Linked DNA regions of Homo sapiens. The protein of the gene in region 1 purifies or fractionates together with the protein of each later gene. This does not show direct contact. Each region holds a gene or a part of one and is shown in the gene's direction. Other genes may lie near its edges.

What was found.
Region 2: the proteins of CARNMT1 (region 1) and NUP42 purify together in Homo sapiens (affinity purification with mass spectrometry; 4 studies listed by BioGRID and IntAct, with this or other methods). This does not show direct contact.
Region 3: the proteins of CARNMT1 (region 1) and GLE1 purify together in Homo sapiens (affinity purification with mass spectrometry; 4 studies listed by BioGRID and IntAct, with this or other methods). This does not show direct contact.
Region 4: the proteins of CARNMT1 (region 1) and MKRN2 purify together in Homo sapiens (affinity purification with mass spectrometry; 4 studies listed by BioGRID and IntAct, with this or other methods). This does not show direct contact.

Annotation. Positions count from the first base shown.
Region 1 is NC_000009.12:75,010,761-75,018,556, reverse strand, and holds part of CARNMT1 (carnosine N-methyltransferase), read left to right. Parts: intron 1-1,108; coding exon 1,109-1,304; intron 1,305-2,125; coding exon 2,126-2,289; intron 2,290-7,796.
Region 2 is NC_000007.14:23,191,674-23,199,469, forward strand, and holds part of NUP42 (nucleoporin NUP42), read left to right. Parts: intron 1-4,165; coding exon 4,166-4,242; intron 4,243-5,006; coding exon 5,007-5,093; intron 5,094-5,499; coding exon of another isoform or gene 5,500-5,574; intron 5,575-7,784; coding exon 7,785-7,796.
Region 3 is NC_000009.12:128,500,709-128,508,333, forward strand, and holds the start of GLE1 (mRNA export factor GLE1), read left to right. Parts: upstream 1-4,010; 5' UTR 4,011-4,097; coding exon 4,098-4,196; exon of another isoform or gene 4,197-5,265; intron 5,266-6,507; exon of another isoform or gene 6,508-6,524; coding exon of another isoform or gene 6,525-6,632; intron 6,633-7,625. UniProt on the Homo sapiens protein: Required for the export of mRNAs containing poly(A) tails from the nucleus into the cytoplasm. May be involved in the terminal step of the mRNA transport through the nuclear pore complex (NPC).
Region 4 is NC_000003.12:12,552,948-12,560,713, forward strand, and holds the start of MKRN2 (E3 ubiquitin-protein ligase makorin-2), read left to right. Parts: upstream 1-4,139; 5' UTR 4,140-4,203; coding exon 4,204-4,229; intron 4,230-7,766. UniProt on the Homo sapiens protein: E3 ubiquitin ligase catalyzing the covalent attachment of ubiquitin moieties onto substrate proteins.

The DNA of each region.
Region 1 (7,796 bases):
TCTAAATTTAATTTTCCAAAGTGGTTGCGCTGATGTATGCACTTACCATTAGTGTGTAAATGTCCTAATTACACCATATTTTCACCAATCACCAAAATTTGATATAGTCAGGATTTTAAATTTTGGCCATCTTGTCAATATAAAAATGATATACTGTGAGTATATATTTAACTTTAAAAAATGATGTTCTTATGGCCAGGCATGGTGGCTCATGTCTGTAATCCCAGTACTTTGGGCGACCAGGGCAGGCAGATTGCTTGAGCCCCGGAGTTTGAGACCAGCCTGGGCAACATGATGAAACCCATCTCTACAAAAAAATACAAAAATATTAGCCAAGTGTGGTGGCACATGACTGTAGTCCCAGTTACTTGGGAGGCTGAGGTGGGAGGATGGCTTGAACCTGGGAGACAGAGGTTGCAGTGAGCCGAGACTGTGCCACTGCATTCCAGCCTGGGCGACAAGAGCGAAAATCCCTCTCAAAAATAATAATAATAAGTAAATATAAGTAAAAATTATGTTCTATTTTCTGGTTTTATGAATAAGTAGTCCCCAAAGTGACCTTTGGGTTCGTTTTTGGAATGCAAATTGTGGGTATTGTTAAGTAAAACACTATAGAATTTTAATTTTTTATTTGCTTAGTAATTTGTAGTATATAAGATCTTCTATGATATTTAAAAAAAATCAACCTGGTTAGCTTTTAGTTAATTTCAGGACATATTTTGTGTGTATTATAATTTCATAGCAGTATTTATTTTGCTACTTAAAGATGGAAAAATCTAAAGCTGGTTTTGCTGAAAATTTTAAGTTTAAAACACAAAAATAAATTAATTGTACATTAATCTTCTTTTTCCTCTTCTAATTGGTGCATATGTTTACTTTTACTAGTGATAAACCATTTGTATTTTGGTTGCTTAGAGAAGGACTTGTAATAAAGTAAAAACATTTACAACTTTATAAGTTAATGCCTTTTTAAAGCCAAGAGATTGTAAATGATAGGACAGTATCCAGCATAATAAGGAAATAATTGTACAGAAAGACAACCTTAAAGTAAGATTGGCCTCTGGTGAGAATTCTTTTGTGAATTTAAAAAACACCTTTTATGTTTTAGCACCAGTATGCATGAGCGGGTGAACCGAACAGAAAGACAGTTTCGATCACTTCCAGCTAACCAACAGAAACTACTTCCTCAGTTTCTTCTTCACTTGGACAAGATCCGGAAATGCATTGATCATAATCAAGAAATACTACTGACCATTGTGAATGATTGCATACATATGTTTGAAAATAAAGAATATGGAGAAGATGTATGTGAAAGTTTGTTCTATTTCTGTTTATTTTAGGGTCAACCTCTGTATTTTGAGGTCTTTTATTTTCTGGATTTCATTTTTATAATCTGGCACAGGCTATTTGCTCTACTCAGAAAGTTTTAACTTAAATGTTCAGTCATTTGATTAGGCTTAATAGCCAGAGACTGGATCTGTTCACTTGTTTTCCTTTTTTAAGTACTAATATAACTGTTGAGATTTTGATGCATTTTGACATAATGTTCTGTTTTGGAATACAGGGTTAGTGACTTAAATTTTTAAAAGCAACTTTACTAGCTAGAAATTAATTTCCCTTGCTTAACTCATATTTTTTCAGTGTCTTGTATCTATTGCTGTTCATCTTTTATTGTAAGAAATTGTTTTCACTTATAAATCTCAAGGGACTGGCAGTACATAGAAACTGAAGTCCTCTTTTTGTATCCACAGGATGGATACAGTTGGGCCACTCCAGTGTGAGCCTCTCCATGCTGCCCCATCAATGACCTGGAGGGACTTTCTTCCCTCTCTTAGAGAGGATGTTCGGTCTCCATAGCAGCTCAGTTTGGTCCTCTCCTGAGTAAAGACTGCTTAATTATATGGTGGTTTTATGATTAATGGACCTTAATCTTTTGAGGGTAGCAGTGAGACCACCAAACTCTTTTCATTTAGGATCTCAAGCTGCACTTGAACCCCAGTTGAGGTGAGAGGCTAGTGATTTATCCACTAAACCACCTATATAGCCCCTTAGTAGCATGTCTATTTAACCATAATATAAGTGGATTACTCTCTCAGAAGCTAATTGATGTCTGTTTTTTAAACAGGGGAATGGAAAGATTATGCCAGCATCTACATTTGACATGGATAAGTTAAAATCCACGCTGAAACAGTTTGTGAGAGACTGGAGTGAAACTGGGAAAGCAGAAAGGGATGCCTGTTACCAGCCAATCATTAAAGAAATTTTAAAAAATTTTCCAAAAGAGAGATGGTAAATAGTACCTCATTTTTAACCAAGTTTTTAAAGTGTATGAACACTTGAGTTTCTTGATAAAATGTTTCACAGTCTCGCTTCATTGTTATAGTTGCTGTGTGCCTGTATGTTTTACATGTGTAAGTGTTAACATTTGTTATTGGATGCTCTGTGTGAGATTACAGTTGTTATTTTGAATAATTTTTATGCTGGTGCTTAGGGGAAATTACTTAGAAATTAAATAATAAGGTTAGGTCGAAAATTATCAATGATGTGTATCTTTTTATAATTTGCTTTATGGCAAAGCAAAAAAACTAAACTTTTAATTCCCCTCATTATGACATAGTTGTAAACAAGTGAGGGATCTGTACCTCTGAGCAAGCAGAGATTCTTAACTTTTTTATGCCTTGGAACCATTGTTCAGTCTGAAGCCCATGGTCTGCTTTTCAGAATAATTTTTTTTTTATTTTATTTATTTATTTATTTATTTATTTATTTTTTTGAGACAGTCTCACTCTCTTGACCAGGCTGGAGTGCAGTGGTGTGGTCTTGGTTCACTGCGACCTCTGCCTCCTGGGTTCAAGTGATTCTCATGCCTCAGACTCCGAAGTAGCTGGGACTGCAGGCTTACACCACCACGCCTGGCTAATTTTTGTGTTTTTGGTAGAGACATGGGCTCACCATGTTGGCCAGGCTGGTCTCGAACTCCTGACCTCAAGTGATCCGCCTGTGTCTTCCTCCCAAAGTGCTGGGATTACAGGTGTGAGCTACCTCACCTGGCCCAGAATAACAATTTTAAGTGAATAAATTTAAGTGCATATGATTACAAAGAAAACTGATTTTGAAATACAGTTATCAAAATATTTAAAAAGTAAATTTGTGATGCATGTTTTTTTAAATCATATATCACTTTAAATACAATTTAGCTGCAAGTATAATTATGAAATGTATTATGAAAATGCTGAATGGGATATACACTGTTTTGAGAACTTCAGCTAATGTGAAGTGAAAATATGTGTGATTTCTCTTCGTGATAAAGTCATAGGTATTGCTAAAACTATTGTTTGTTGCCTGCATCCGTAATTGAGGGGAAAAAATCAGTTTCTGAAATTAAAATGTAATTTTTTCCCATTCCCTTCAGAGACTCAGTGAATTCTATCCACAGACCTCTTGATGGATAGAATTTAATCCACCTAACCTCTGTCCCAGGTTAGGAACCCCTGATTTAGGGGTATATATTTAACGAAAGCTATTGGATGGAATTCAGTCTTATTTAAAGATCTTTTAGAGAGGCTCCTTTTCCTCCTCTCCTTTGCCTCCGTATTGATTGACAACTTTACGTTTGAGTATTTGCTTTCAGAAATTTCAATACATATGTGTCTCTTCTCTCTCTTTATTTTTTGTTAGGACATTTTATTTTATTGATTATTATTTATTTATTTATTATTTTTATTTTTCACTCTGTTGCCCAGGCTGGGGTGCAGTGGCGCTGCTTACTGCAACCTCCGCCTCCTGGGCTCAAGTGATTCTTGTTCCTCAGCCTCCCGAGTAGCTGGGATTACAGACACCTACCACTATGCCTGGCTATTTTAACTATTTTGAAATAACTTTAAAATTACAGATAAATTGCATGAATTATATGGAGACCTCCTGAATTCACTTATACTTTTTACTTGAATTCACCAGTTTTTAACATTTTGCCACATTTGCTTTTATTGTTTCCTCTTCCGTCTTCCCTCCCTCCCTCTTTCCCTTGCATTATGTATGTGTGTGTCTGAAACCATTGAGAAAATTTAACCCTGAATACTGTTAGGTAATTTACAGTCTATATTCAAGTTTCATAATTTACTGTGGTTCATACTGATAACTCTTAATTCCAGTCCCAACTCTATAGGGTTATCCTTGGTTTTCCCTCTTTTCTGTATCTGTTTACCTCACTTCCAACAACATCAATACGTTTACTTATTCGCCCAGTTGTCTACAGTACACACAGAATGGTTTCAGAATTGCTTCATCCATACCTCTGTGAAAAAGAAACCTACTAAAAGGAGTTCGGGATTTGCTAATAGTTATTTTTCCCTTAGACTAAGGTTGTATAGTGAATTTATTCTTTGCAGTTTACCCAAATTAGCTCTCCCTTTAATCTTCAGCCTCCTGGTGTTTTATTCCCTCCCTTTATTCTATACCCCATTTGGATAATCAGTATCATTGGCATCTTGTTTATTCATCCTTTTATTCTTGGGGTTTTTTTTTTTTTTTTTTTTTAAGTAAGTGGATGTGGTTTTTTTTTTTTTCTCTCTCTCTCTCTTTTTTTTGACACAAAGTGTTGCTCTGTCATCCAGGCTGTAGTGCAGTGGTGTTATCGTAGCTCACTGTAGCCTTAAACTCCTGGGCTCAAGTACTCCTCCCACCTCAGCCTCCCAGCTAATTTTTTAGTATTTTTTGTAGAGGCAGGGGTCTTGCTATGTTGAACAGGCTGGTCTTGAACTCCCGGCCTCAAGTGATCCTCCTGCCTCTGCCTCCCAAAATATTGGGATTACAGGCATAAACCACTGTGCCTGGCCTTTTTGTTTTTCTTTATAATTACCCTCTTTGGTCATCCACAAAAGATAATATAGCATACATGTATTCTGTACCTTGCTTTTTTCACTTAGTGTATCCTGGAAATAGCTATGCTGTCATTTCACAGAGATCTTCAGTCATTTTTTTTTTTCCCAGCTGAAGATTACTCTGTTATTTGGATGTATCATAGTTTATTCAACCAACTTTCTCCTACGTTAGGTTATTTAGGTAGTTGGCAGTATCTAGCAATTATACATAATGCTAAAATTAATAACTTTATGCATATGTATTTTTATATTATTGGAGGTATAACTTTAATTTTTATTTAAAAATAACTTTATTTGATAATCTTTTAAAAAATCCATAATATAATTTCAGAAGAAATTTCTCCTGATTTCCCCTTACCACATTTTAGAATATAAATAATGCAGAAGGATCTGTTTATTTTTCTTTGCAGCAGTTCCTGACCAGTCCATGGTGAGAAATATCAGTTGGCACTTAATTGCACCATAATAAATTATACCCAGTAAGGATGATTTTTCAGGTCTCCGTGCATGGGTTATGGAGATTTTCCATCATGCATCTTTTTCTGCTGCAATTATAGGGCCTGTATATACTTATGAGAATTGGAGCTAATATCAAAGACAAAAAATTGTGGGGCCCTTTCCCCGACAGTCCACCAAGTTTTGAGGAAAAGAAGTATCAGTTGAAATAGCTCTGAAGAATTTATCTTCCTGGTTCTGATAAGTAGATCTCATGGTCTCTGATTTAACAGTACATATAGATAAGATTTTTTTTTTTTTTTTGAGACGGAGTCTTGCTCAGTCGCCCAGGCTGGAGTGCAGTGGCACGATCTCGGCTCACTGCAACCTCCGCCTCCCGGGTTCACGCCATTCTGCTGCCTCAGCCTCCCGAGTAGCTAGGACTACAGACGCCCGCCACGACGCCTGGCTAATTTTTTTTTTTATATTTTTAGTAGAGACGGGGTAGATAAGATTTTTTAAAAACACAGTGTAACAACTTGAACTTTGCCGTGCAAACTCTGTAACCCACTGTCAACATAGTTCTGTATTTGGGCATGGATCATTCTGAAGAAAAATGGAGCTCAAATTTTTAAAAAATTCTTAAAACTTGAAGACCTGTCCAGGTGTGGTGGCTCACGCCTGTAATCCCAGCACTTAGGCTGAGCCGGATGGATCACTTGAGGTCAAGAGTTCGAGATCAGCCTGGCTAACATGGCGAAACCCCGTCTCTACTAAAAATACAAAAATTAGCTGGGCATGGTGGTGCACACCTGTAATTCTAGCTACTCAGGAGTCTGAGGCAGGAGAATTGTTTGAACCTGGGAGGCAGAGGTTGCAGTGAGTCAAGATCATGCCACTGAACTCCAGCCTGGCCAGTAGAGCAAGGCTATCTCAAAGAAAAAAAAAAAAAAAAAACCAAAAACTTGAAGACCCTCAGTACCTGGGCTCTTAACTGACCCAACATATTAATGTACATTCAGAGCTCAGATATAAGTGATATTCAGTCACATCTCAAATGGTCAAGGATATATAGTGTTTGGCATCAAGACCTTGAAGCTCACATTTGCTAGCAGAAAAATCTCAGTTCCTTTCATCGGGTATGTGTGCAGGAGAGTATCTTTAATTTAAATTCTTAGAAGTGGGATTGCTGCATAACACATTGATTTCAGTTGCTATGGGTCAGGAGTCTGGGCTTGGCTTAACTGGTTCTTCTGTGTAGGAGCTTACAAGGCAGCAATCCACGTGTCTGCCGGGCTGTGTTTTCACCTGGAGACTTGACTGGGGAAGAATCTGTCACTCATATTTCATTTTGTTTAATTGCAGTTGTAGTAGTGAGGCAGAATTGTTTTCACTGTGGCTGTAGGACTGAGGGTCTTAGCTGCTCTCTGTTTGTCAGTTGGAAGCCTGCCTCATCTCCTAGAGGCAACCCACAGTTCCTTGTCTTTCCCAAAAGGACCACTTCATCAAGCCAGCAAGGAGGGTGTCTAGATCAAGCAAGCTGTCAACCGTCTTACAGTGTTGAACAGTCACAGAGCTGGGTGTCAAGGCTCATGTCTATAATCCCAGTACTTTGAGAGACTGAGATGGGAGAATCACTTGAGGCCAGGAATTCAAGACCAACTTGGGCAATGTAGTGAGACCTCATCTCTACTAAAAATTTGAATATTAGGTGAGGTGGCATGCACTTGTATAGTCCTGGCTACTCTGGAGGTGGATGCCTGGCAAGGGGATCATTTGAGCCCAGGAATTCAAAGTTGCAGTGATAAGATTACTGCATTCCAGCCTGGGCAACAGAGCAAGACCCTGTCTCAATAATAATAATAATAATGACAATCACAGGAGGGACATCTCATCACCTTTGCCATATTCTGTTGGGTAGAAACAAGACATGGGGACCAGGAGGTAGGGAGCGTGGGAGCACCACTACAGGGTCTGTCTGCCACAGTCATTACTATGTTCTTCTATAAGGGTTGCACTGTTTTGTCTGTCTACTGGCAGTGTATCAAAGTGCCTGTTTATGCACAGCCCTGACAAATACTGTAGTTTTAAGCCTTTGACCTTTTGCCAACCTGATGGGTGGGAAATTATATGTTGGCATAGTCTTAATTTGCATTTCTCTTATGATGAGTGAAACTGAACATCTTCATATGTTAAAGGGTCATGTTACATGTTTTTTTTTTTGAGAATTATATATTTATGTCTTTTGCCCTCAGTTTTTTATTGAGGTGAATTGCATATAACAAAAGTAATCATTTTAAATAATTCAGGGACATTCAGTACTTCACAGTATTGTACATCTGTCACCACTGTGTAGATCCAAAACATTTCATCAACCCAGAATAAAACCTCATACCCATTAAGCAGTTACTCCCCATTCTCCCCACCATTCTCCCCACCCTGCCTCTACCTTTATTATTTAGCAGTTTGACTGTGAGGTGT
Region 2 (7,796 bases), on another chromosome or scaffold:
TTTGCCCAATTATAAAAGTTACAGCTTTTGGGCCAGATGTGGTGGCTCATGCTTGTAATCCTAGCACTTTGGGAGGCTGAGGCAGGTGGATCACTTGAGCCCAAGAATTTGAGACCAACCTGGGCAACTTGGCGAAACCCTGTCTCTACCAGGGTGTGGTGGCACATTCCTATAGTCCCAGCTACTCAGGAGGTTGAGATGGGAGGATCACTGGAGCCTAGGAAGTCAAGGCGGCAGTGAGCCACTGCACTCCAGCCTGGGTGACAGGAATGAGACTGTGTCTCAAAAATAAAAAACAAGTTACAGCTTTTGCTTTAGAAAACTTGGAAAGTACAGAAATATATAAATAAAATAAAAATAACCTGATATCACAGAGGTAACTACTACATTTTAGTATATTTCTTTCGAAACATATACACACACAAACATATTTCTTGTTTATGTATACAATTGACCCTTGAACAACATAAAGTTTAGCGGCACTGATCCTCTGTGCAGTCAAAAATCCACGTATAAGCTTTGACTCCCCAAAAGCTTAACTACTAATAACGTACTGTAAGAGAAAAGAAAATGTTAAGAAAATCATAACGGATCAGGCGCGGTGGCTCACGCCTGTAATCTCGGCACTTTGGGAGGCTGAGGCGGGTGGATCACAAGGTCAGGAGTTCGAGACCAACCTGGCCAATGTGGTGAAACCCCATCTCTACTAAAAATACAAAAAAAATTAGCCGGGCTTGGTGGTGCATGCCTGTAATCCCAACTACTGTGGAGGCTGAGGCAGGAGAATTGCCTGAACCCAGGAGGCCGAGGTTGCAGTAAGCCGAGATGATGCCACTGCACTCCAGCCTGGGCAACAGAGCAAGACTTCATCTCAAAAAAAAAAAAAAAAAGAAAAAGAAAATCATAAGGATAAGAAAATATATTGACCATTCACATAGTGGAAGTGGATCATCATAAAAGTCTTCATCCTTATTGTCTTTATGTTGAGTAGCAGAGGGATAGGTGGGTGTGGTCTTGCTGTCTCAGGAGTGGCAGAGGCGGAAGAAAATCCCTGTACAAGTGGCCCCTGTACAAGTGGACCCTGTACAGCTGTGTGTACAGTTGACCTTTGAACAGAACTGCAAGGGTCCACTTGTACAGGGATGTATAAGTTGTTCTATGTGTGTATATATGTATACCTATGTGTCCGGAATTGGTGGGTTCTTGGTCTCACTGACTTCAAGAATGAAGCCACGGACCCTCGCGGTGAGTGTTACAGTTCTTAAAGACATCGTGTCCGGAGTTTGTTCCTTCTGATGTTCAGATGTGTTCGGAGTTTATTCCTTCTGGTGGGGTCCGTGGTCTCGCTGGCTCAGGAGTGAAGCTGTGGACCTTCGCGGTGAGTGTTACGGCTCTTAAGGCGGCCCGTCTGGAGTTGTTTGTTCCTCCCAGTGGGTTCGTGGTCTCGCTGGCTTCAGGAGTGAGGCTGAAGACCTTCGCGGTGAGTGTTACAGCTCATAAAGGCAATGTGGACCCAAAGAGTGAGCAACAGCAAGATTTATTGCAAACAGCAAAAGAACGAAGCTTCCACAGTGTGGAAGAGGAGCTGAGCGGGTTGCCACTGCTGGCTGGGGCAGCCTGCTTTTATTCTCTTATCTGGCCCCACCCACATCGTGCTGATTGGTTCATTTTACAGAGAGCCAAGTGGTCTGTTTTGACAGGGTGCTGATTGGTGCGTTTACAATCCCTGAGCTAGACACAAAGGTTCTCCAAGTCCCCACTAGATTAGCTAGATACAGAGTGTGGACACAAAGGTTCTCCAAGTCCCAACCAGAGTAGCTAGATACAGTGTTGATTGGTGTATTTACAAACCCTGACCTACACACAGGGTGCTGATTGGTGTGTTTACAAACCTTGAGCTAGACACAGAGTGCTGATTGGTGTATTTACAATCCCCTAGCTAGACATAAAGGTTCTCCAAGTCCCCACCAGACTCAGGAGCCCAGCTGGCCTCACCCAGTGGATTCCACACCAGGGCCACAGGTGGAGCTACCCGCCAGTCCCGCGGTGTGTGCCCACACTCCTCAGCCCTTGGGTGGTCGATGGGACTGGGTGCCGGTGGAGCAGGGGGTGGCGCTCCTCGTGGAGGCTCAGGCTGCTCAGGAGCGCACGGAGGTGAGGGGGAGGCTCAGGCATGGCGGGCTGCAGGTCCCGAGCCCTGCCCCGCAGGGAGGCAGCTAAGACCCGGCAAGAAATCCAGCGCAGCGCCGGTGGGCCGGCACTGCTGAGGACCCAGCACACCCTCCGCAGCCGCTGGCCCGGGTGCTAAGCTTCTCATTGCCCGGCAGGGCCAGCCGGCAGCTCTGAGTGTGGGGCCCACCAAGCCCACGCCCACTCGGAACTCCAGCTGGCCAGCAAGGGCCCTGGGTAGCTCTGGTTGCCACTCGCGCCTCTCCCTCCACACCTCCCTGCAAGCTGAGGGAGCCAGCTCAGGCCTTGGCCAGCCCAGAAAGGGGCTCCCACAGTGCAGCGGTGGGCTGAAGGTCTCCTCAAGTGCCACCAAAGTGGGAGCCCAGGTAGAGGAGGTACCCAGAGCGAGTGAGGAATGTGAGGGCTGCCAGCAAGCTGTCACCTCTCACCTATACATATATACGTATACATATATATGATTAGGATCATAATCTAGTTTTTCTTTGTTTTTTGTTTTGTTTTGTTTTTTTGAGACAGAGTTTCGCTCTTTGTTGCCCAGGCTGGAGTGCAGTGGCGCCATCTCAGCTCACTACAGCCTCGGCTGGCCTTCCGGGTTCAAGCGATTCTCCAGTCTCAGTCTCCCGAGTAGCTCGGATTATAGGCATATGCCACCACGCCGAGCTAATTTTGGTATTTTTAGTAGAAACAGGGTTTCGCCGTGTTGGCCCGGCTGGTCTTGAACTTCTGGCCTCAGGTGATCCACCGGCCTTGGTCTCCCAAAGTGCTGGGACTACAGGCGTGAGCCACCGCGCCCGGCTGTAATCCAGTTTTTTTTGTTTTTGCTTTTGTTTTTGTTTTTGTTTTGAGACGGAGTCTCGCTTTGTTGCCCAGGCTGGAGTGCAGTGGCGCAGTCTTGGCTCACTGCAACCTCTGCCTCCCAAGTTCAAGCAATTCTCCTGCCTCAGCCTCCCGAGTAGCTGGGATTACAGGCTCATGCCACCACACCCGGCTAATTTTTTGTATTTTTAGTAGAGAGGGGGTTTCACCATGTTAGCCAGGATGGTCTCAATTTCCTGACCTCGTGATCCATCCGCCTCAGCCTCCCAAAGTGCTGCAACTACAGGCGTGAGCCACCGTGCCCGGCCCTAGTTTTATATTCTAATTTTTGCTTTCAGTTTGTCTCTGGTACTAAAAATATTAGAATGAACACCCTTATACATAGCAACCTTTGTTTACATATATAACTATTTCCCAAGGTTAAATCCTATAAATTGTATTATAAGTCACAGGATATGAATGTTTTTCAGGCTTGTGATGCTTATTAACAATTATCCCTCCCAGAAAACTTGTACCATTTTAATTCCCTTAACGGTAATTTAGGAAATGATACATTTCACCACATTTGGAACAACAGTAAATACCAGCTTTTAAAATTTCTGCCAGTCTGATAAGTAAAGCATTTTATCTCTATTTTAAGTTGCATTTAACTTTATTTCATTTATTTACTATTTGATTTTTTTTGTGTGTGAATTGCCTGTTCATTATCTTTGCCCAAATTCATTTACTTTTCTCATTTATTTGTAAGAGCTATTTGTACATTAGGGCATTAGTTCTTCTCTTGTCATATATGTTAAAATTGCAATTTTCCTAGTGTACCATTTGCCTTGTAATTTTGCTTAGTATAGTTTCTGGCAGAATTTTTAAAATAAAAGTTTGAATATAAATGTAGTCAAATCTTTCTCCTGTGTTTGTTGTTCATTCTACGCCACTTATCTTTAGAAAATCTTCCCCATTTAAAGATCAGAATAACCAACTATATTTTACTGTAATTTTACACTTTATTAAACATTAAGTAGAGTGTAGGCTTTAAGTTTCTTCCTCATGGTTATGAAAATTTTCTAATCAACATTAGATATTTTCTTGTTTAGCACCTCTAGCTTTACTATCAAAATTATTGGCATTTATTTTAAAGATTCCGATTGATTCCTCACTTCAGGTTTTACAGACATTTCACCAGAGGAATTGAGGCTTGAATACCATAACTTCTTAACCAGCAATAACTTACAGAGTTATGTAAGTTTGTTTCCTATTAATCTACTGCAATAACAGATGAGCTCTTAATTACTGCTTTCTTTATCGTGGCTTGTGTTTTGGCAAAACCGATGAGGTCTATGATCTTTTTTCAGGAGTAGGCTATTTTTCTTTTCTATATTATTTTCATTGAATTTGGTTGGTTATTAAAATGATAATATATTTTTACTTTAATAATTAGGAATATTACTATTTTTATTATAAATTACCCAACAGTCAATCCCAGAAATGAAACCCTTTTATCATTTGACAGATATTTATTGAACATCTGTTAGGTACCAATCCAGTGATGAATGCTAGAAAAACAAAGTTAAATAAGATACAGTCTGTAATACAGATTAACATCCTCATATATCAAATATCAAAAAAAATTAAAAATCTTGACTAGAATAAGTTGAGTACCTGAAGGAAGCAGTTTAAATGCTGTATTTTTCTGTTTCTACAGTCATGATCATGCATTTCAACTAGTACATGTATTCACCGCCCATCCAAATATAACTAACTACGTGCTGCCAGGTACTTGTGATACTAACCAGATGATACAAGGAGTTGAACGGGAGAGGGAACTGGAGCTGGCATATCTTTGACAAATAGGCCAAGTCAATGCAAATTTTGCAAGTCATGGGCCATAAAACTGTTACATAAACCTTTTGTGATTTTGGCAAAGAAGTATGTGAAGTTTTTATTGAAGAAACTAACTTAAACATACAATATTGAACTGTTATTTTTCTGTCTTCCGTTTTCAGCTAAATTCTGTCCAACGTTTAATAAATCAATGGAGGAACAGGGTAAATGAACTGAAAAGTCTAAATATATCAACTAAAGTAGCTTTGGTGAGTATGGGAGAGTTTTCTTGAGGGAAGTGTCTTACCTATTGCTTTTTTGCAGAGGATATTTTACTTTAGATTTGGAAAGCAAAACAAAAATTTTCTATCAAGAATTATGATACACACATTCCCAAAATAGCATCACTTAAGAGTCAGGGTCTTGAAATAGTTTTCTCTGTGTTCCTTGGTCAGAAAAGCAGAAATAGTTATGCTTTTTAAAAGCTTTTTAGGGTAAAGTTTTTAACTTTGGTAGTGCTAGTTTTGAAAATGGCAAACTATTACATAAGTTTAAGTATTTAAGGTTATCTGTATGTAAAAAGAAATTACTTTGAACAGTTATATGAATGCACATTTAGAATGTAATGTATCGTTTTGCGACTGAAGAACACAGTATGTTCCTTGTCTTAAACAGAAATGCCTTTGGAAGATATATACCCACCTGTCTCCAAAGATCTATGGTCCCGACTGTGGCAAGTTCATTATCTTTGTAAATAAAGTTATGATGTTTCTACACCCATTAAAAAGTTCTTAAGAATTTTATTTTAAAATAAGATATTCACATTTATAATTTTAATATTTCCAATTTCTCAGATGGTTTCTACTCTGTATAAGGATATGAGAGTAATGTCTCCCTACACTTAGTGAATGGTTGACAGTCCCAACACCCCACCCCTTTCTTAAATATGTGCTTCCTGAATAACTAGACTCTTGTGCAAGCTAATTTCTTTCATCTTTTAGTTCTTGTAATGCTATTTGAATTTAGTGGGACCTCTTGGAAGTAGTCTGTCCTTGTGTGAGAGGTGGCCCACCATCACCATGGATGAGAGCTGATGGAGAAAGGATAACTGAGTCCAAAGAACTGTGGAACTTCCCTCAGGGCTGGAAGGTCCCTGCTCCTTGCTAACTGCCCAGGGCCCCTTCCATAGGTTAGAATGTGGGACAACCCACCCATAGCTGACTTAACATGTATCAGGAGTTCATGCCTTCTTTATACTGAATGGTAACCCATTGTATGGATATAATTTGTTTATCATCTGCCTGTTAATGAATATTACACTGAGGGAGAGAAACCAGACCAAAAAAAAAAAAATAGTGTAGACCATGTGATTCCATTTGTATGAAACTCTGGAAAAGACAAGTCTCATTTGTAGTGATAGAAAGCAGACAGAGTGGTTGCCAGGGACCAGGAGCAAGAATGCTTTTGAGGGCTGGGTGCAGTGGCTCACGCCTGTAATCCCAGCACTTCGGGAGGCTGAGGCAGGCGGATCACAAGGTCAGGAGTTTAAGACCAGCCTGACCAACATGGTGAAACCCGGTCTCTACTAAAAATACAAAAATTAGCCAGGCATGGTGGCACACGCCTGTAATCCTAACTACTCAGGAGGCTGAGGCAGGAGAATCACTTGAACCCAGGAGAGGTTGCAGTCTCAAAAACAAAAGCATTCTTTTTTTTTTTTTTTTTTTTTTTTTGAGGCAGAGTCTCACTCTGTCACCCAGGCTGGAGTGCAGTGGTGCCATCTCAGCTCACTGCAAGCTCCGCCTCCCGGGTTCACGCCATTCTCCTGCCTCAGTCTCCCGAATAGCTGGGACTACAGGCACCCACCACCACGCCCAGCTTTTTTGTATTTTTAGTAGAGACGGGATTTCACCATGTTAGCCAGGATGGTCTCGATCTTCTGACCTCATGATCCGCCCGCCTCAGCCTCCCAAAGTGCTGGGATTACAGGCGTGAGCCACCACACCGGCCAAAGAATGCTTTTGAGGCTTCCAAATGAAAGAAATCGCTTATGTTTGCTTTGGATGATTAAGAAAGTCTTCTTGAAAGGAAGGAGCAAATACAAAGTTCCTTGAAAGTAGGATTAAGATTTCAGTAAGCAGAGATGAAAGACATTTCTAGAGCACAGAACAGCAAGAACATAAAGTACTTTCAGGGAATGGGAAATGTTTAATGGATTTTTAGTCATAAGCTTTTAATTATATAATAGTGGATCTACTTCGAGTATTAGACTGGGTATTCTATAAAGGTCCTTTTTACCTAATATCTAGATTTCTTGATAAATGCAGATCTACCCTTATAGACACTGAAAAAAATTTAAAAATATTTTTCTGATTATAATATCTGCTCATTGTAGAAATTTAGAAAGTATAAAAAAGCATAAATAAAATTTAAATCACCTGTAATTTATCAGCCAGAGATAATCACTGTTAACTTACTAATGTACATTTTTTATGCATATTCATATTACTAGTTGTGATTATACTGTTTATACAGTATTATGTCTTATCCTTTTCAACATCATATTATGGGCATTTTCCATGTTAAGCATTTAACTTTGCCTTTTTTAATGCACTTTTTTCTTCTCTTTTCTTTTTTTGAGTCAGAGTCTTACTTTGTCATCCAGGCTTTCCCAGGCTCAAGTGATCCTCCCACCTCAGGCTCCCAAATAGCTGGGACCACTGGCTAATTTTTTATAGAGATGGGGGTCTCGCTGTGTTGCTGAGGCTGGTCCCAGACTCATAGGCTCAAGCCCTTCACCCTCCTCAGCCTCCCAAAGTGCTAGGATTACAGGTGTGAGCCACCACACCCAGCCTTTAATGCACATTTTAAAAACTTGAATTTGTCCATAAAGTGTATAGAAAAGATACTGGAGCACTATTCATCAAGCACTTTATTATTTGCACACTTTTTTTTTTCAGCTCTCTGATGTA
Region 3 (7,625 bases), about 53 Mb from region 1:
TCACAAGTGTGGTGTTTTCCCAAGGCTCCCTTCCCAAGCTCAGTGCAAACCTCTCACTCCCAAGTTTCTTTGAGGCCACTTGCCCCCAAGCACTTCACAATAGACCCTCGAGGGCTTGTGTCCATTTGGCCTTTTACAAGTGTAATGCCAATTTCATTGATTTTTGTTTCTTTTGGCCTGATTTGTATCTCTGGAATGCATTTATTCTTGAAATATTTGTGTGATTTTACAAAAAGCTTTTGTAATCAGTTATTTAAGGCTCCATTTGATGATTTCCTTTACCCAACCAGTCCTCATCCCTCCTCTAAAAAATGATTAAGTAAAATGCTGCAGGACAGCCAGTAGACATTTTTAAAGTACTTGGTGCCTGAAACATCAGGCTTCTCATTTCATTTTAGCTCAGGTTGGTGCTTTCACATTGTAATCAATGAACTGTCAGGAGGGAACAAACTGTAAGAAGGATTGCTTGGTGTTTTAGGGTAGATCACTTTAGCTATTAGGAAGAGGATGGGGTAGTGTACAGTATATATTTTTAAAATGTGAATTGGTTTCTGAATAAGAATCTGGGCCATTTTTGTTCACCATTTTTGTTCGTACTGTGCTAACCTCTGCCCTTCTGATTCTAGCTAGTATTGGCCTGGGTGGTCCAGTCTTCTCACCTCTCAGCCACTCTGACTCAACTCTAGAGAATTTCTTCTCTGTTCTTTTTTCTTCTGGAGACAGGTCTCTGTCACCCACACTGAGTGCAATGGCGGGAACATGGCTCACTGCAGCCTTGACTTCCCTAGCTCAAGCAATCCTCCCACCTCAGCCTCCACAGTAGCTGAGAGCACAAGTGTATGCCACCATGCCCATCTAATTTTATTATTTTTTGTAGAGACAGATCTCACCACATTGCCCAGGTTGGTCTTGAATTCCTGGGCCCAAGTGAACCTCTCATTTTGGCCCCCCAGAGTGCTGGGATTACAGGGGTGAGCCACCACACCCAGCCTTCTCTGTGTTCTTGAATCCACCTAGGCATCTGGATTTCAAAGACCAGAAATCTCTTTTCTCTACCAAATTTTGAGGATATTTATAGTTTCCAGCTTTCAGTTTTTCCAATGAAGGTAATTCCAGCTACCACTGCCAAAAAAACTAAGCCCATTTTCATACTCTTAACGTAAATAGACAAGAACTTATAATAGGTGAAAGACCTTCCCGAGAAAGGACAATTGACAAACTTCCACCAGCATGTATATATATCTGTATAACTCATTATTATTTTTGCCAAACTAGAGAAAACCTCAGTGCAGGGCACTGCTATGTAACTCTGGTGTGAGCAACACCTCTCTTGGAGTCCCTTGCTGGGACTCTGGGGACTCTTCCAACAATTTTTCTTTTTAAAATATTTTTATTACAAGAAGTCCAGGGAATTTTTAAAAACTCAGAAAATGAAAATTGTTCACATTGCTCATACTCCAGAGAGAATTCTTCCTACCTCAAACTGAGATCTCACGAGGTGGTGGACAATGGAAGGGTCAGAAAGTCTGGGGTCCCAGTTAGAGCCGTCTCTGGACAATTGTGACTCATTCTATTTTTATTGAGATATAATTCACATAAAATTCACTCTTTTTATTTTTTTGAAACAGGGTCTCCCTCTGTCATCCAAGCTGGTGAGCAGTGGCACAATGATGGCTCACTACAGCCTCAGCCTCCTGGGTTTAAGCGATCTCCTGCCTCAGCCTTCTGAGTAGCTGGGAGCACAGGTGCATGCCACCATGCCTGGCTAATTTTTGGATTTTTTTTTTTTTTGGTAGAGGCAGGTCTCATCATGTTGTCCAGGTTGGTCTCAAACTCCTGGGCTCAAGCCATCCTCCTACCTTGGCCTCCCAAACTGCTGGGATTACAAGCATGAGCCACCATACCTGGCCTAGAATTCACCCTTTTAAAGTGTAAATATAGGCCAGGCGTGGTCACTCACACCTGTAATCCCAGCACTTTGGGAGGCCGAGGCGGGTGGATCACCTGAGGTCAGGAGTTCGAGACCAGCCTGGCCAACATGGTGAAACCCTGTCTCTACTAAAAATACAAAAATTAGCCGGGAGTGGTGGTGGACGCCTGTAGTCCCAGCTACTTGGTAGGTTGAGGCAGGAGAATCACTTGAACCCAGGAGGTGGAGGTTGCAGTGATCCAAGATCACGCCACTGCACTCCTGCCTGGGCAACACGGCGAGATTCTGTCTCGAAAAGATAAAGTGTATATATAATTCAATGGTTTGTAGTATATTCACCAAGTTGTGTAGCCATCACCATTATCTAATTCTAGACCTAGTTTTTTCTTTTTTCGAAATGGAGTCTCTCTCTGTCACCCAGGCTACAGTGCAGTGGCACCATCTCGGCTCACTGCAGCCTCTGCCTCCAGAGTTCAAGGGATCCTCCTGCATCAGCCTGTGGGGACTATAGGTGCATGGCACTTTGCCTGGCTAATTTTTGTATTTTTTGTAGAGACAGGGTTTTGCCATGTTGCCCAGGCTTGTCTGAAACTCCTGACCTCAGGTGATCTGCCCACCTTGGCCTTCCAAAGTGCTGGGATTACGGCACCCAGCCAACCAATTTCATCACTCCCAAAAAAGAAACGCCATACCCATTAGCAGTCACTCCCCATTCCCCTCCCCCAGCCCCTGGCAACTAGTCATAAAGTTTCTCTGGCTCTATAGATTTGTCTCTTCTGGATATTTCACATAAGTGGAATTGTCCAACATGTGGCCATTCATGACTGGCTTCTCTCAGCATAATGCTTTCAAGATTGATGTTGCAGCGTATCATCAGCACTTTATTTTTATGGCCCCATAACATTCCATTATATAGATGTGGTGTTTCCTCCTGCCAAACAGGGCTGGTTGGGATTCCAAAGAAGCACTATGGCCGGGCGCAGTGGCTCATGCCTGTAATCCCAACGCTTTGGGAGGTCGAGGTGGGTGGATCAACTGAGGTCAGGAGTTCGAGACCAGCCTGACCAACATGGTGAAACCCCGCCTCTGCTAAAAATACAAAATAGCTGGGCGTGGTGGCTGGCGCGTGTAGTCCCAGCTACACGGGGAGCTGAGGCAGGAGAATCGCTTGAACCCGGGAGGCGGAGGTTGCAGTGAGCCGAGATCGAGCCACTGTACTCCAGCCTGGGGGACAGAGCAAGACTCTGTCTCAAAAAAGCAGCATTAAACCCAAAACATTTATTAGGGAAGCTTACAGAGTGGGCTGCAGCAATTCTCGCGACAGACAGAGAGAAGCGGTGTTTCACCTAGGTACATCCCCAGCGAGGGGTCAGGGTATGAAGTTTATATGAGGGTTTATGGAATTTGGCTAAAAGCAGGGGTCAGTTTCAGCGTTTTGGGCAATAACCTAGATATCCTTAGTGCCTAGGGATATGCAAGGCCCGTGTTTGGTTGCAAGTCTGCAGGAAAAAACTTGCAGCTGGCTGGGTCACAGGGCGGTCAAGGCACTCTGATACTTGGTCAGTGCACAGAAAGCGGGGGAACTCGGGAACCGCGCACATAGTACTATATTTTATTTATCCATTCACCAATGGATGGACGTTTGGGTTGCTTTCACTTTTTGGCTATTATGAATAACACTGCTGTGAACATTCATGGACAAGTTTTTATATATACATAGGTTTCATTTCTTTGGCGTATTTTATATATATATATATATTTACCTAGGAGAATTGCTGGGTCAAATGGTAATTGTTTAACCTTTTGAGGAACTGCCAGACTGTCTTCCACAGCAGGTGCTTCATTTTACAGTCCCATGAGCAGTGTATGAGGGTTCCAGTTTCTGCACAGTCTCAAGGCACAGACAAATTTTCAGCAGCCCCGGGGATTGGGAGCGGTGGTTACCTCTGCGGAACGTGCCCCGACAGCCAAGCCCTGCGCGCAGGCGCACTGGTGGGAGGGCGGGAACGCGGGAGCGTCGCCGGAGGTGGGGCGTGCAGGCGTTAGGGGCGGGGCTGTGCTGCGCGCGCGTCCCGGAAGCAGAAGCCTGTGTGGCCTTCCCGGCGGCTGATTCGAGGGCTTGTTTGGTCAGAAGGGGGGCGTCAGAGAAGCTGCCCCTTAGCCAACCATGCCGTCTGAGGGTCGCTGCTGGGAGACCTTGAAGGCCCTACGCAGTTCCGACAAAGGTCGCCTTTGCTACTACCGCGACTGGCTGCTGCGGCGCGAGGTGAGCGGTGGCCCCGGAGGACGTAGGCCTTTCCGGCCCCTCGCGACCGAAACCTTCTCCCTAGCCGTTGGCACGTTCTGCTCCCGGGAACCCGTGCAGTCTAACAACCTGCATTTATTTCTTGACTTCTGTGTGTACATCCCTCTGTCCTGGGGTTTCTGTCCTCTTCAGCCTATTTTAGCGTTTCGGGGAGCTCCCCTGACTTCACAGGTGCCCCGCGCTCTGAAGGCTTCATTGCTACCCTCCGCCAGTTGGGCGCCTTCTCCGTTCTGCTGTTGTCAAAGCAATCTCGGCCCCAGGTTCAGTTAACTTACTGTATGTCTCATGTGCTGGGAGCTCTAGAGTTTGCGACGAACGATTGACACGACCTAATCCATTGCTACTAGTGAAATGACCAAATTTTTAGATTGATTTGGCAGACCTGGAAAGTGAATGGGGGCGTGGTCACCGTACCTAGCATTTGCAAAGCTCTGCGCGAGAAGTGGAGGGATGTGGAGAGTTAAGGCCGAGCTCCCATTCCCGAGTCGCTGCTAGTTAGCTACAGATAAGGCGTTGTCCTGCATCCTCAGACTTCTTGGGAAACAATCCTAAAGTATTTCCCTGTCTTTTATGTTGTTGACAGTTTTGAAAAATACAGACCTTACATTCTGTAGGTTGACTGCCAGCATATGTGCTTTCAAACCACCAGACCAAGGTTAAGCATTCTTGGCAGGAATACCACAGAAATGATGCCATGGCTTTCTCAGTAAGTCACATGAGGAGGCACACAGATGTCAACCCATCCCAACACTGGTGATGCTAATCTTGATCACCTGGTTACGTTATTATCTGCCTGGTCTCTCCGTTTAAAATTCGTCATTTTTCCCTTAGTAATTGTTGGGAAGTAATAATACCAGTATCCTTTTTTCTGGGCAAACCTTAATCCTCCATGGCTTTAGCATTCATTGATGTTTTCCACATGAATCGATACCTCTATGACGTTGCCAGATCCTGTTTCTTTATATCCGCTATTCCTTCTGCATTTGTTAGTTGGCATTCTACTGTAAGGAGGTGCTTTCTATTTTATTCAGTGAGTTGTAATCCATTACTTTTATTATTTATTTATTTTATTTTAAATGTCCCAGATTTTGTAAGCTTGTATCAAAATAATCACATGCAAGGCTAGGCGTGGTGGCTCAGGCCCGTAATCCCAGCACGTTGGGAGGCCGAGGGGGACGGATCACTTGAGGTCAAGAGTTCGCGACCAGCCTGGCCAACATGGTGAAACCGCATCTCTACTAAAAATACAAAATTAGCCGAGCATGGTGGTGCATGCCTGTAATCCCAGCTACTCGGGAGACTGAGGCATGAGAATTGCTTGAACCCTGGAAGCAGAGGTTGCAGTGAGCCGAGATTGTGCTGCTGCACTCAAGCCTGGGTGACAGAGTGAGACTGTGTCTCAAAAAAAAAAATGTAGCCTTGTAAATATGTACAACAATTATGTATTCATAAGAATTAAAAAGAAAAATGTCCCAGATTTGGCTACTGGGCACCTCATTAAGTTGGTTCCTGTGTTCCTGTGACATATTTCCATCTTTCATTGACATTTCTTTACTTTTTGACACAAAAAGATGTCCCAGGTGCAAGTTTCCCTGTCTTAATCCTGGAATCAGCTATTTCTCCAAAGAGGCTGACTCTTTTGAAGTGGAGGATGGTGCTGTATTGGCAAACCAAGATCTGGGAGTTGAGTGTGTTGAGATTCTTGATTGGGTACCATTGCTTCTAGGCCTTCTCAGTAGACAGAGCTAGGAAATAATACATATCTAAATATGTACACACATCACCACACACACATTTATGTACTGTCTATTTGTGTGTACATATATATTATAAAACCATGACTTCATACTGATAAATGCCACTTCCAACCCAGCACTTCACTTTTCTTTCTAATCTTACCCCATCCATGTTTGTAAATATGTTACCTAGCAGTGAGAAGTTTGGCTCCTGTTATTCTCAATATGTTTACTTATTTGCTCAATCAGTTTACTTTATCTCATTGTAGCAATCTCTGAACTACTCTAGTTTTTTCATTTATTTATTATATCATAGGTAATCAGTACTTATTTTCTCATACAAAGATGTTCCACGCTCATCTTATATTTTTCTGCCTCCAGTTCTGGAACTTACCTTTTCTGCAGAGACCCCTGGTTTCCTTTGATTTAAAATTATATTTACAAACCAAGATCTGGTACTAGATATGCTCATTATTACTACTAAGGGTGTATACATACATATCCATATCTATTTCTATTTTTTAAAATATTATTAGGCTGGTTGTGGTGACTCATGCCCATAATCCCAACACTTTGCGAGGCTGAGGCAGGACGAGTGCTTGAGGCCAGTTCAAGCTGGGAGCCAGGCTTGGTGTCTCACACCTGCAATCCCAGCACTTTGGTAAGTCAAGGTGGGCAGATCACTTGAGCCCAGAAGTTCGACACCAGCCTGGGCAATGTGGAGAAACCTCACCTCTACAAAAAATACAAAAAAATTAACCAGGTGTGGTGGTGCGTGCCTGTAGTCCCTGCTCCTTGAGAGGCTGAGGTGGGAGTATTACCTGAGCATGAAAAGTTGAGGCTGCAGTGAGCCGTGATCACGCCACTGCACTCCAGCCTGGGGAACAGAATGAGAGCCTGTCTCTCAAAAAAAAAAAAAAAAAAATAGTCGGGCGTGGTGGCTCACGCCTGTAATCCCAACACTTTGGGAGGCTGAGGTGGGTGGATCACCTGAGGTCAGGAGTTTGAGACCAGCCTGGCCAACATGGTGAAACCCTGTCTCTAGTAATAATACAAAAATTAGCCGGGTGTGGTGGTCGACACCTGTAATCCCAGCTGCTCGGGAGGCTGAAGCAGGAGAATTGCTTGAACCCGGGAGGTGGAGGTTGCAGTGAGCTGAGATCGTGCCACTGCACTCCAGCCTGGGTGACAGAGCAAGACTCCATCTCAAAAAAAAGGCTGGGCACACAGTGGCTCACGCCTGTAATCCCAGCACTTTGGGAGGCTGAGGCGGGTGGATCGCCTGAGGTCAGGAGTTCGAGACCAGCCTGACTAACATGGAGAAAACCCCGTATCTACTAAAAGTACAAAATTAGCCAGGCATGGTGGTGCATGCCTGTAATCCCAGCTACTCAGGAGGCTGAGGCAGGAGAATCACTTGAACCTGGGAGGTGGAGGTTGTGGTGAGCCAAGATCGTGCCATTGCACTCCAGCCTGGGCAACAAGAGCGAAACTCCATCTCAAAAAAAAAAAAAAAAAAGACCAGCCTGGGCAACATATCAAGACTCCATCTCTATAAAAAATGAAAAAATAATTAGCTGAATATAGTGGCGCATGCCTGTACTCCCAGCTGCTGGGGAGACTGGTTGAGGTGGGAGGATAGCTTGAGCCCAGG
Region 4 (7,766 bases), on another chromosome or scaffold:
GGAGGTTGCAGTGAGCCAAGATCACACCACGGCACTCCAGCCTGGGTGACAAAGTGAGACCCGGTCTCCAAAAAAAAAAAAAAAAAAAAAATCTTCCTGCACAGTAAACTGCAGGCTGAGATGGCTTCCATGGTAAATTCTTCCAGATGTTTAAGGGAAAAATTAATACCCATATTACACAGACTTTTCCAGAGGATAGAAAAGAAAGACTTCCAAACTCATTTTATGAGACCAGCATATCCCAGATACCAGCACCTGGCATGGACATTATAAGAAAGGAACACTACAGACTAATATCTCTCATACACAAGGATGCAAAAATTCTAAACACAATTTTAACAAATAGATGATTTATAGAAAATATATCATGGCCATGTGGGGTTTATCCTGAGCAATTGGGTAGGGTTAACATTAAAAATCAATCAGTATAATTCAATACATTACCAGTATAAAAGGGAAAAACAATATAGGTTTCTCAATACATGCAAAAAAAAAAGTGATAAAAGTCAAGATGTGTTCATGGTAAAAATGCTAATAAAACTAGAAAGAAACTTTCTTAATTTGGCAATGGATAGCCTAAAAAAATCTAGGGCTAACATTTTAATTAAAATATTAAATAATTTTAAAGTAAAATATTAAATATTTTTATTGAATCCAGGAACAAAATAAGATGTACACTATTACTACTTCTCTTTAACATTGTTCTGAAGGCTGTAGACAGTGCATGCAATAAGGCAAGGAAAAGAAATAAAAGATACAAAGATGAAAAGGAAGCAAAACTGTCATTATTTGCTGATGGCGTGATTGTGTATAGAAAATCGATAACTAACTACAAATAAACCATTAGAATTAATTCAAAATTTAGCATGGAGCTGAATCCCAAGTCAGTATACAAAGATCCAGTGTATTTCTATATATAAGCAACAAGCAATTCGGAAATTTTAGGAATATCATTTAAAATAGCATCGAAAACCGCTTCTAGGGGCAGGTCGGCACACAAAGAAAACGAAAGCTTTGCAAGACCCTCGGCGCACGTCTGCGCAAAGGGTCTCTGTGTCTCTACGCCCAGATGGCCATTTTGAGTCCCGAGCTGGCAGCCACCCTTCTCTTCTGTTTTCTCAGCTTCTTCACCCGCTTCTATCTGATAGCCTTTTTCTCCCGAGTGTTTGGTAGCAAAGTTGCTTTTCCTAAGGGGCGAGAACGGGAGCTGGTGGTTAGCAAGCAGACGCAGTTTTACGCGCCCCTGCTACGGGCAGGAGCGAGTGGCCCTGCCTTCTCTGCCAGCGCGGGTTCCCTGGGGGTGAGGAAAGTGAGTTCCACGTCCCGGGTGGGGCAGGACTTGGTGTTTAGTGCCCAGCGCCAGATAACGCCGGAAGAACCCCAAGTGGAGACTGCTTGCATCCTTCGGGAAAAGTCTAAGTGCTAAGTACCATGACAGTGGCAGGAACCAAGCTGTTGGGTACAGCTTGTGGAAGTGCACACTGGCTGTCGTTGATCCAGTGTTGTATTATTTTTTCATAAATATATATGAAATATATGAAATATATATGAAATATAAAAATATATATATATATTGCCCATGACACAGACCTCAGGAGATCCTGAGAACATGTGCCCGATCCAGTGTTTTATTTGCACAGACACCCTAAAGGGCACCAGCAGTACAAGGCTGATGAAATAACTTATGGCATAGTCGTACAACGGAATACTATACAGTTCTACGAAAGGAGGAAGAGGCTCTATGTACTGATATGGAAAAATCTCCACTGATTATGTACGCTGTGCAGAACAGTACGTTATGTTATCTTTTCTACAAAAAGGAGAAAATAATATATATGTATTTACTTGTGTATATTTAAAGAAATTCTGGAAAGATGTATACAAATTTGATAACAGTGGCCAGGTTTTGAGGTTTTAAAAAATGTTTCTGCTTTTTGTTTTGAAGAGGCGGGAACTAAATTGACAGGAGACTGAGACTTTTCACTTTACGCTTTTAAAATATTTGAACATAATAACGTTCAGATCGTGAATGTATTCCATAAAGAATGAGATAAGCTGAATTTTAAAAATAAGTGGCATGGGCTGGGCGCGGTGGCTCTCGCCCGTAATCCCAGCACTTTGGGAGGCCGAGGCGGGTGGATTGCCTGAGCTCAGAAGTTCGAGACCAGCCTGGGCAACAGGGTGAAACCCCGTCGCTACTAAAACACAAAAAATCAGCTGGGCGTGGCAGCGTGCGCCTGTATAATCCCAGCTACTCCGGAGGCTGAGACAGGAGAATCGCTTGAACACGGGAGGTGGAGGTTGCAGTGAGCCAAGAGCATGCCACTGCACTCCAGCCTGGGTGACAGAGCAAGACTCCGTCTCAAAAAAAAAAAAAAAAAAGACGTGTAATTTTTATGAGCATGAATTGCATGGATCAAATGTGTTATGAGTTAAAATGCAATATTCAAGACACTGAAAACAAAATTTCCAGTATACTTCCAAATTCCTGAGAAAAATTTCAAAAGTTCTAAATAATTGGAAGTATATACCATGCTCATTCATTGGAAGACTCAATATTTTTATAGCAAAGTAAAAAAAGAACATACAGCTATACATACATAACATGGAAAGATCTCACAGATAAAATGTTGGTCAAAAGAAGGCAGACAAAAGCGTAGGTACTGAATTATTATTTATATGAAAGTCAAGAACAGTTAAACTAATTTATAGTGATAGAGATGAACCCAAGCAATGACCTTTGTAAAGTATTGCCTGGGAAGGACCATAAGGAAGCCCTTCTGGGGTGTCGATAATATCCAGCCCCCACCCACCCCCTGCAGCCTCGACTGCAGTGAACTATGCTCAAAGGATCCTTCCGGCTCAACCTCTCCTTACTCCAGCATTTTGAAGTTTAGTCGAGCATGGTGTCGCGCACCTGTATTCCCAGCTGCTGGGGAGGTTAAGGCAGAGGACTGCTTGAACTATGATGGCGCCACTGCACTCCAGCCTGGGCGACAGAGCAAGACCCTGCCTCAAAACAAAACAAAAAATTCTTTATTTTGATCTGGGTGGTAGTTTCATGAGTGTATGCATGTGCAAAAATTCATAGAATGTGTTTGGTGCACTTATATTGTGCATGTTATGTATCTCGAGTTTTTAAGCAATGAGAAACCATTGTAAGATTAAAAGGTGAATGACATGATCCGATTTATGTTTTAAAAATAGATTTTTACCAGGAACGGAAGCCAGAAGACCAGTTAAAAGGCTATCGCATGGCTGGCCAGGCGTGCACGCCTGTAATTCCAGCTACGTGGAAGGCTGAGAGGCAGGAGAATCGCTTGAACCCGGGAGGCGGAGGTTGCAGTGAGCCGAGATCGCCCCACTGCACTCCAGCCTGGGCAACAAGAGAGAAACTCCGTCTCAAAAAAATAAAAAATAAAATAATAATAATTAAAAAAAAAGGTATCGCATGGTGCTAGGTAGAAGGGACGGTGGAAAGGGGGCAGAAGAGGACGCATTGGACAGAGGTGTGGGAGCAGAATCTGCAGGGTATAGAGAGCTAGAGGGAAGTGTCAAAAATAACTTTTGGGGTTTCCACCATAGGAAATGGAAGACGAGCAGCACAAGACTGGCAGGAAAGAAAATGAAGACTAAAACTTGTGGAAGTAGAGATTTGGGGAAAGAGCAGTTGGGAGAGAGCTAAGGAATTTCCTTAAGTGGGAGGCGAGGTCCGGCGGGAACAGTTGAGGCAGGGCCTGAGAAGGGTGCCCAGTGAGTGCGAGTATGAATGGATAGGGGCATCCGGGATTAAGAGGAGAGGCTGGAGTTTCCCCAGGAGTGGTGAAGTGCCTCGAAGGAGGCGGGAGATCCCTAAGGAATACTCTTGGCGATCGGGGCAGAATCGCAGGCACTAACAGTAGGCATCGGGATAAGACTGGCAGGACTAAGATGCCAGCCAGGCTCCGCCCCGGAGGCTTGGAAGTGCGGGACACCGAGAGCAGGGATGCCGGGACAGCCGGCCCGATCCCCGGTGCGGAACCAATTGTGACGACGGCTAGGTTACCCGCCGGCGCTACAAAGGTGCCACACCGGAGGGGCGGCGTGCGCCGGCGTGCGCCGGCGTGACGCGGCTACGCGGGATGGGCCGGGCCAGGGCCAAGGCCGAGGCGGCAGCGGCTGCGAGAGGCGGCGGCACGACGACGGTCCCTCAGCCCAGCCACCATGAGCACCAAGCAGATCACTTGCAGGTCAGTGCGCTGGAGCCAGGAGCTTCGGGCCGCTCCCCCAGGCCGCAGGGGGGCCGGTGCGCGCCAGTGCTGTGGTCCGGGAACCTGAGGCTAGAGCGGGACTCGGAAAGTTACTCGGCTGTTCGCGGCGGGGCTTTGCGAGGCAGAGCGAGCGCTGCCGCCACAGCCGGGGATCCGGGGGATGCGTGGCCGAGACGCTGGGCGAGGCCAGCGCGGGGGGCTACGCCCCGAGTTTGAAGCGTGGCCCCTGTGGGCTGGGAGGAAGGACGTCCTAGCCAGGGCCGTGCAGGATGCCGGGGCGCTGTCGGGAAGGCTCTGGGGCTTACGCTTTAACTGGAAAAGATTTGAAGTTGAGTAAAGGGACGCCGAGAGGACGGTTACAAATGGGGATACCACATAGGAGTAATTTGTTAATCGATTATGAGGGCCTCAAAGTTTGGAGAATCCAGATGCAATCTAAACTTGCAGAGAGTTAACAAGTAAAAGTTGTTGTGTGGAAAATAACGACAGGTAGCATATTGTGAATATCGGCGAAGCGCCCTGCATATTTCCAAGTCCTTTATATTCATTATCATCAGACTTCACAGTAAGACAACTTAGTAGTTATTATTACCATTTTACAGTGCAGGAAACTGAGACCGAAAGACGTTGACACTCATTTATCTTACTGAGAGAGCCATTTACGAGGAGAAATGCGACGGTAATGGATGGTTTATTGTAGAAAATAGCCAGATAGCTACACTACGACTGCTCCTATGAAATAGAATAGTGTGGTTGTGTAACACCCTCATTGCTTGGTCAGCTTGTGGCTTACTGGTAATGGAGTCTAGTCCTATTGAATTGTATGTTTGGAAAACGCAAATTGAATTGTATGCTTGGAAAATGCAAATTTCATTTAATAATTTTTATGGGAAACATTGCTTAAAAACAGTTATAGAGTTTGTGTAATAAACAGTTTATTTTCTATGTTGTTACTTCTCTTCATTGGTATGAATAGTTGAGACGTGACTGTGTAGTAAGTTTTCTGTTAGCATTAGTGTACATTTACTGTTCAATTTATCCAAGGCCCAGGTGGCTTATGTTAAGCTGTTGTCAGAAATTTGCACCTAGTGTCTATAAAAAGACTTTTACTAGGTTATTTGTACTAGAAGGTGTTTTGTGAAGACGGGTTTGTGTGTGTTTACGTATTTTTATTTGTATAAAGTTTCTCCTGCTGGAGGAAGTATTCCTAGGTCATTGTGCACTGTAAAGCAGCTTGTAGCCTCCTAGAAAAACCTCTGTATTCCTCCCCTCGCTCTATGGTTTAATTCTACCATTTATTCCCGTACCTCATCTAAGAAGTGTCCACAAAACAGTACACATTTATGTAATAATGCTTTATAATTGAATCTCAACTCTGTAGTATCTTATTTTACAAATAAGGAATCTTATGCTCAGAAAGACTTGAAATTTGCCTAAAATTTTACACCTTAGTAGAGGCACAAGGACCTAAATCAGGATCATCTTGGTTTTTTCCTTGTATACCTGGAGATAGCTTGACTTGAAAGCTTTAATTCTGTTTCCCAAACAGGGGTGTTCTGTAGGATGTTGCTCCATATAAATGAAGATTGGGTTGGAATGTTGAGAAGGGATCACTTCTGTTTAAGTGTTTAGTCATGTTTGTTGGGGACTTACAATGTGCTGCGGCTCTTAGGTACTGTAGTGTATAATCCAGCAACCAGCGCTCTTCCACAGATCGTAAAACTGAGCCTCAGCATTGAAGCGACTTGCCTAAGGTCATTTAGCTTCCAAGTGACAGAGGTGTGAAATCAAAGTTCATGCCCTCATAGACTGTAGGGCCTCCAGATAAGTTTTGAAATGCTAAATTAAAATTTATTTATTGCAGGACTTATCAAAGCTTTTAATGTGTTCCCATGAAAGGAAACTCATACAAGGATATGTAAAACTGCAAAGAAGTTTACTCACAAAAGGGTGTAAAGGAGTCAGGGCTCCCGATGACTGCCTTGCCAAATAAAAAACATAACAGGTGTTTTAAGTGGGAAAAAACCAATATGACCAAGAGTACCAAGTTTACATTAGTGTGTTTATCTACCATCAACTTTTCTACCAGCTTATCTACCAAAAGCTTTTCTCACTTTATTATCTCATTAACAAAAGCCTTGTCTCTAGACATTGATAATTTATAGGAAATGTTCAAGGTATGATTTATTTTGGGGACCAGATCTAAGCAGCGTGTGCGGTTTTTTGTGGGTTTTGTTTGTTTTTTTGTTTTTTTTAATCTCAGGTCACAAAGTTTTAGGTTTGTTTTCCTGACTGTGGGATGTGATGTACATGTTTATTTTGAATGACAGCAGAATAATGTCAGTTTTGCTTCCAATCTGTTAGATATTATGTATCTCCAAGAGTTGCTTATCAAATGCTAGGAGTCTCAAACCTAATGACAAAGACACTCCATGTTTTTATTGCCTGGAGTGGTAAAAATGACTGCTCGTACAGTTATGCTGTCAGTCAGCTCTTCTGATTCCTTGACATGCCGCTCTATCCAGAATCTCAATCTGTGCCTTTTTGCTGATTCCCCTCCCCCACAACCATCTCCCTGTCTTCCAGTCTGTTTTCGGAGCCCTGGGGGAGGCCCTTATTATAGCTTAGTAACCAGTTTATTTCACCTTCTCCTCTTGTGATAGAGCTTCCCTGCATCTCATAATCACTATTAGAAGACACAGGATTTCATTGTCCTAAGATAGTCAAACCTAGGGGGCTTTTGATTCTTTGAAAGTCACAAAACATGGGGGATCTTTTCAGCTGGCAGGTGGTAGGAAGAGTTTGAGCCCCAGGGTTGGGCAGTTCTGGATTCTAATCCTGGTACCACCTGTGCAACAACTGCCTCATCTGTGAAATGAGGATGGTAATGCCTAACCGGCAGGGCTGTTTAAAAATTAAATAATAGCAACAAACCATTTATTTTGTATTAGGATGAGCACTTACATGCATTTTCTCAGTTAAATGTCCCAGTAGTCTATCATAGCAGTCTATGAAGTAAGTGCAGTTATTATAATCACATTACAGATGGGGAAACTGAGGCTCAGTGACTTAAATAACTTGCTTAAGCTCACATAGCAAGCAGTCTGACTTCAGTGTCTTCACCACCACACTGTACTTCATTTCATTCCCGCCTCTAATCAGTACATTTATTGCAAGCCTGCCACAGTGCCTACCATTTGCTTCCTTCCCCCTCAGTGGATCTGCTGTCACAAGGAGTATAGCCGTAAAATTTTAGCCTGTGAAAATATGTAGGAAAATGTAAAAAAAAAAAAAAAAAAAGACACTGAGGATGCAAATTACCTGTATACTTGGAAGTGATTTGCAAAAGCGTTTTGCTAAACAGGCAACATTCAAGGGCCTGTAAGAAACCAGATTGATTGTTTTGCTTAGCACTGCTGCTGCTGGAGCTGCTGGTGGTTCTGTGGCCAGCAGTGAACCTGATATGCTCTGCAGTGTATAATAGCCATACTGTCTGAAACAGTCTTTTGGGTTTAC